Regions from separate parts of the Homo sapiens genome. Here region 1 is linked to region 2. Evidence: fine-mapped expression QTL. A gene starts in region 2. The other region holds a variant in brackets. All regions are shown on one strand. Distances are from middle to middle.

Region 1 (2,921 bases), 47 kb after region 2:
CTAAAAATACAAAAAACATTTGCCGGGCGTGGTGGTGGGTGCCTGTAATCCCAGCTACTCGGGAGGCTGAGGCAGGAGAATGGCGTGAACCCGGGAGGCAGAGCTTACAGTGAGCCAAGATTGCACCACTGCACTCCAGCCTGGGCGACAGAGCGAGACTCCCTCTCAAAAAAAAAAAAAAAAAAAAAAAACTGGAACACGTGGGAGTCAGCCAGAAAAGTAAATCAGAGTAGCCCAAAGATAGCCATCAAGACCCCTGAGGTGGTATGAAGATTACCAGGACTTTCAGAGCAGAGAAGTTCCTAGTAGCTGAGTATTTTCTCTGTGGACATGATTGGTGCAAGTTTGCAAACATGAGTAGTCTCAAAAGCAAACATCAGACACTCTCTGTAGAGGTCAGTGCACTTTGACCTACATCCTTTCTGGTATTGCATGGATTATTAAGGTGCACAAGGGGAAACCAAAGCATAGAAAAATAAAGTTCTAGACTCAGAGCCTCATAGAAAATAGGTATTTATTAGGAATTAGTCTCTGATCCAAAGCATTTGGACCTGAAAGGGATCCAGGGATCATTTGGAAAAGTATCTGTGAAACTTTAATGTACCAACAAATCATCTGGACATGTTAAAAGGCAAGTTCTCATTCAGGAGATCTGTAGAGGGGCCTGATATTCTGCATTTCTGGGCTTTTAGTAGTTGAGGATGCCACTGTAACAGACCATATCCTGAGTAGCAAAAATCTAGTCTAGTGGTTTTAAACCATGCACAAAAAAATCACTTTGGGATTACTTTTTTCAGAAAACTTACTGATAATACTCATGCCTGGGCTTCACTTCCAGAGATTCTGATTGATTGGGCTGGAGATTGGCTCAGGCATCTGCATTTTTAAAAGACTTCCAAGGAATTTTACAACCTTGCAGCCCAAGGTTGTAAACCACTGTTCAAGGCCAACCTTTTTCTATACCTGATGAGGAAACTCAGTGTTTAAGTGAAATCAAGTTCACTCTGCTAGTTCGTCGAACACAGAGCTGGTTCTGGAATGTTGATAGTGGTTAAGTTTTATTTCTCCAATGCTTAAGTTTCATTTCTACAAGTAGGCATCCTGCCCATTAGAAATGAGTTTCCCTCTCTAGTTTCCATTGTTTTTTTCCTATTTGTAGACACAGACACACACAC[A/ACT]CTCTCTCTCTCTCTCTCTTACACAATGTGTTGGCTGTTTCCTTATTGTTGCTCTGTCCTGTGTGGTTCATGGCTGTATTTATCCAAGGACACACTGGGCCAGATCCTGAATACCTAATCAGTTGAGCCAGAGCCTCACAGAACCAGGACTGCTGCCAAATTCAGTGACCACATGACAAACACTCACTCTGTTTCTCTGACACGCTGTTACTAGCAATAATTTTATGCATGAAAATTCCAAAGTCATACTACTCTCAGTGTAAGCAGCTCTCCTAATGTTCATTTCAGTATTTGCTTATGTTTCTATCCCTTTTAGAGTTGATTCAGGGCTAGTGCCTTACAGAAGATATTTGTATCTGAAAACACAATTGGCCTCCTAGAAGCTTCCCATCTGATACAGAACTGGAGAGAGAGAGCTGAGAGGAAATGAGTCCCATTCCAAAATCTCTTCTCCCCCTACACAGGTCCATCCTCACTAGGGAGAGGTTGAATGCCTGCTGCCCAAGAGGTACTGCTGGGCTCTATGTGTAGATATGGCCAGGGCTCCCTGACCTGAGCCTGAGATGGGAATATGTAGATTGCCCTGGCCTGAAGCTCAGAACAGGACACCCCTATCTCAGCAGCTGCACAGTCAGATATGACATGAAACACCTCTCTCTCAGTGCCCACTGGGAAAAATTGTAGTCTGGAAGGGCTCCAGCTAATGGTCAGCACAGACTGCACAGATAAGGGGACTTGTCCCACACTGTGAAAGCAACACTCACAATTACTGAATGCTGTTAAATGAGACATGCTTTCCATGCAATATCCCACTTCATCTCAACATAACCCCATGACGAAAGTCCTAGTGCTATTCCGATTCCATGGGTAAGTAAATGTGGCTTAGAAATGTGAACCAACTATCCCAAGATCACATGTCCAGTAAGCAGCAAAGTCCATTAATGACCCCAGGTAGTCTGATTCCAGGTGGCCTTCACTACTGAGCAACATCATCTTGTGCGCACAAAGACAAGTAAAGGTAAAGGGTTTTAATAGTTCTCATTATGCCCAAGCTGCAGAGCAAGAAAGGAAACCTCAGAAGAAAACATCCCATTGGCCCCAAATATAGAATAATGGTTGTTCTATGATGGGGTGCTATTGTCTTATACTCAGAGTACACAACCCCAAAATAAACAAGATGGCAAATATCTGTGCAGAACCCCCTCCATCAGGTGATTCTGTCACCTGACAGGTGTAGAAGGTTTTTTCTAATGGCCTTGGTTTGCTCAACCCCAGATGGAACAATGTTTGACTAACAATCATTCTTCCCTTTCAGCAAACTTGGTCTTCCACAGCAGGGCTACGTGGGCCTAGTTTCCTTTCCCTCATTCCCCTGAATGGTTCTAACCTCCATTTCTGTGCTGTCATTATGCTTAGAGAATTTTTCTGCCTACTTTTATTATTAGAGTATACTCAAGGAATAAAATGGGGATTCTCATTACTTAAGTAATGTTGAGATTTGGTGGGTTTATGGAAGAATACATGGATCTAAATGATATCCTGTGCTTGTAAGATGTCAAGACGGGCCAGGTGCAGTGGCTCACACCTGTAATCCCACACTTTAGGAGGCCAACACAGGTGCATCACCTGAGGTCAGGAGTTCGAAACCAGGATGGCCAACATGGTGAAACCCCATCTCTACTAAAAATACAAAAAAATAGCTGGGTATGGTGGTGCACACCTGTAGTGCCAGCTACTCTGGAGGCT
Region 2 (2,921 bases):
ATTTACCCTGATGTGATTATTACTCATTGTATGCTCGCATCAAATATCTCATGTACCCCATAAATATATATATCTACTATGTGTCCACAAAAAATTTTTAAAAATAATAAGAATTGGCTTAAAAAATGCTGTTTCCTGGGCCCCACCCTAGACTGATGGTCAGATACCTAATGTTGACAAAAAAAGTCAAACTCTGTAAAACATTTGAAGAGATTTATTCTAAGCCAAATATGAATGACCTATGGCCTGTGACACAGCCCTCAGGAGATCCTGAGAACATGTGCCAGGCCACAACTTGGTTTTATACATTTTAGGGAGACATAAGGCATCAATCAATACATGTAAGGTGTACATTGGCTAGGTCCAGAAAGGTGGGACAATTGGAAACAGGGAAGCGGGGCAGCTTCCAAGTCATAGGCAGATTCAAAGATTTTCTGATTGACAATTTGTTGAAAGAGTTATTATCAATAGAAAGGAATGTTTGGAGACATCCAATAGAAATTCAATAGACAATCATTAGAAAGGAATGTCTGGGTCGTGGAGACCAAGGTTTTATTATGCAGATGAAGCCTCCAAGTAGCAGGCTTCAGAGAGAATAGGTTGTAAATGTTTCTTAATACACTTAAAAAGAGCATGTTCTGGCTGGGTGCAGTGGCTCATGCCTGTAATCCCAGCACTTTGGGAGGCCAAGGTGGTTGGATCACCTGCTATCAGGAGTTCAAGACCAGCCTGACCAACATGGCGAAACCTCGTCTCTACTAAAAATACAAATATTAGCCGGGCATGGTGGTGGGTGCCTGTAATCCCAGCTACTCGGGAGGCTGAGGCAAGAGAATCACTTGAACCCAGGAGGCAGAGGTTGCAGTGAGACGCAATCATGCCACTGCATTCCAGCCTGGGCAACAGAGTAAGACTCTGTCTCAAAAAAAAACAAAAACAAAAACAAAAAAAGAGTGTGTTCTATTAGTAATTCCAAAAGGAAAAAGGATGTAATGAGGCATATCCAGCTTCCCCTTCACATCAGTTTTCAGGTTAACTTTGGAATGCCCTTGGCCAAAAGCAGGGGTCCAGTCACATGGTTGGTGAGTATGGCCTTAGAATTTAATTTTTTGGTTTACATTAGGAATGCTTCCACATTCTCTCAAACAAATTTTAGTCACAGTTTTGAATAACGTACTCTGGCTCAGCCATTGCAGGTCTCAAGCCGTTAGGTTTCATTTTCCTCCTCCCAACGATTTTAAATTAGTTTCACTTTCCAGTTTCCTCTTCCTTCCCCTAAAAGCAATTACTCAAAAACGGAGAAAACATCAGCTGATGCGTGCCCTACTCTCCCACCCCTTTATATAGTTCCTTCAGTATTTACTTGAGGCAGACAGGAAGACTTCTGAAGAACAAATCAGCCTGGTCACCAGCTTTTCGGAACAGCAGAGACACAGAGGGCAGTCATGAGGTCAGTGAAATAAGAATGCATAATCATGCTTGTTTTTGAGTGCAAATTGTAAGTTGAGTTTCTTACTGTGCAGGCACATTCCTGAATTGTCCTGATGTTTATAGATTCAATATGTCTTTATCAGTCTGAGCATTTGTAAGATGTTTGAGGGGTTTTTCCCTGTGGCTTTTTTTGGTGTACACACAGGCTTCTTAAGTTTCTGGAATGGTTCCCTACGGAACTACATGGGGGGAGGCAGGGTGGGGAATGCATCAGCTCATGTTTCCTCCCTGTGTGCAGCTATTTCCTGCAATGAGAGGAAGGCTTGGCAGGAGCGGTGTATTTCACTCAGCCACAAACTTGGCTGATTCAAGGGTAGACCTAAGGGAATTACTCTTTTGGGTTTTTCTGTTATTGTCATTTTGTTTGAAAAGATTAAGTCACAGGCTTTTTTTCTTGTAATTTTAAAAGGAGGAATTTATTTTCAACAGATATTGTGAAAGATACAATCAGTACTGCAAACCCACTCATGAAGAAGGCAATTTTGCCCTGAAACGTTGCATTACTTTAAGGTGGGAAGTGGAAGAAACAATTCTTACAAATGGGCATTTTTGTCATTTCTTATATAAAAACAAACCCAAAGCTTAGCATTTATTTTTATTGATGTAGTGAATGCTGGTCAGCAGCAAAAAAAGAATTTCTCCTCAAAAGTGTAATGACCTAATCTATTATCTAAAACTAGTCTAATCTCTAATGGTGGGAAGCAGATCAGTGGTTGCCTGGAGATGGTGGGGATTGAGTAGGAAGGCTCCCAAAAGAATCTTTTTAGAATCATAGGAATAGTCTATAGGGAGGTAGTGATGGTGGCTACATATGCATAAACATTTACCAAAACTCATCAGACTATACACTGAAAATGGGTGCATCTTATTGTATATAAAGCATAATCTCAGTAAACTTGATTTTTAAATTTATATATTGACCTCCTGGAGTTCTTCAGGGGATAGCATGTTAGGGAGAACTAAGAGAAAAGGATGCCTTTCCCACCAAGCATCTCTAGGAAAGGAGTGAGGAGGTGATTGCCAGGGAGGGAAGACCCCATCGACCATTCAGGGGGGCAGAAAAGGAAAACTGGATTCCCTACCTTACTCTGCCCCAAGGACTTGAAGATGCTCTGCAATGTCATGTTTGGGGATGAGATGGGTAAGAGGAATTCACTGCCAAATACCTCAGTATATAGAATACCCTTTTATATAGAATAAGTTCCTGGTCAAGAGTGATGTTAATTGTGTCTGTGTGAGTGGGATTGACCAGAGAGCAAGGCGTCTTAGTAGCCAGCTTGCAGGAAAGGTTTTACAGGGTCCTGTCTTTAGGTGTGTCTATAGCCACTGACCTGAGGAGGTCTGAGGGGGGCTCTCTGAACTATGCTGGACTCAGGTTCACATCAAGGTGCTCCTATTTCCAGAGGCTATAGGAACAGGAAGAGATTGGG

What was found. PIP is the estimated chance that this variant, and not a neighbour inherited with it, causes the effect.
Region 1: its variant is fine-mapped to the expression of IFIT3 in whole blood (INTERVAL, PIP 0.97).

The regions. Positions count from the first base shown.
Region 1 is chr10:89,373,168-89,376,088 of GRCh38, forward strand. It overlaps a transcript of LIPA not described here. Among named protein-coding and RNA genes, the nearest start is that of IFIT1B, 3.4 kb to the right of the region's middle. The variant A/ACT (reference allele first, on the strand shown) is at 1,176.
Region 2 is chr10:89,326,629-89,329,549 of GRCh38, forward strand. IFIT3 (interferon induced protein with tetratricopeptide repeats 3) reads left to right here and starts at 1,369. Exons shown (of 2, transcript NM_001549.6): 1 at 1,369-1,450. The coding sequence starts at 1,446. It also overlaps a transcript of LIPA not described here. RefSeq lists an enhancer at 1,137-1,376 and a silencer at 1,697-1,746.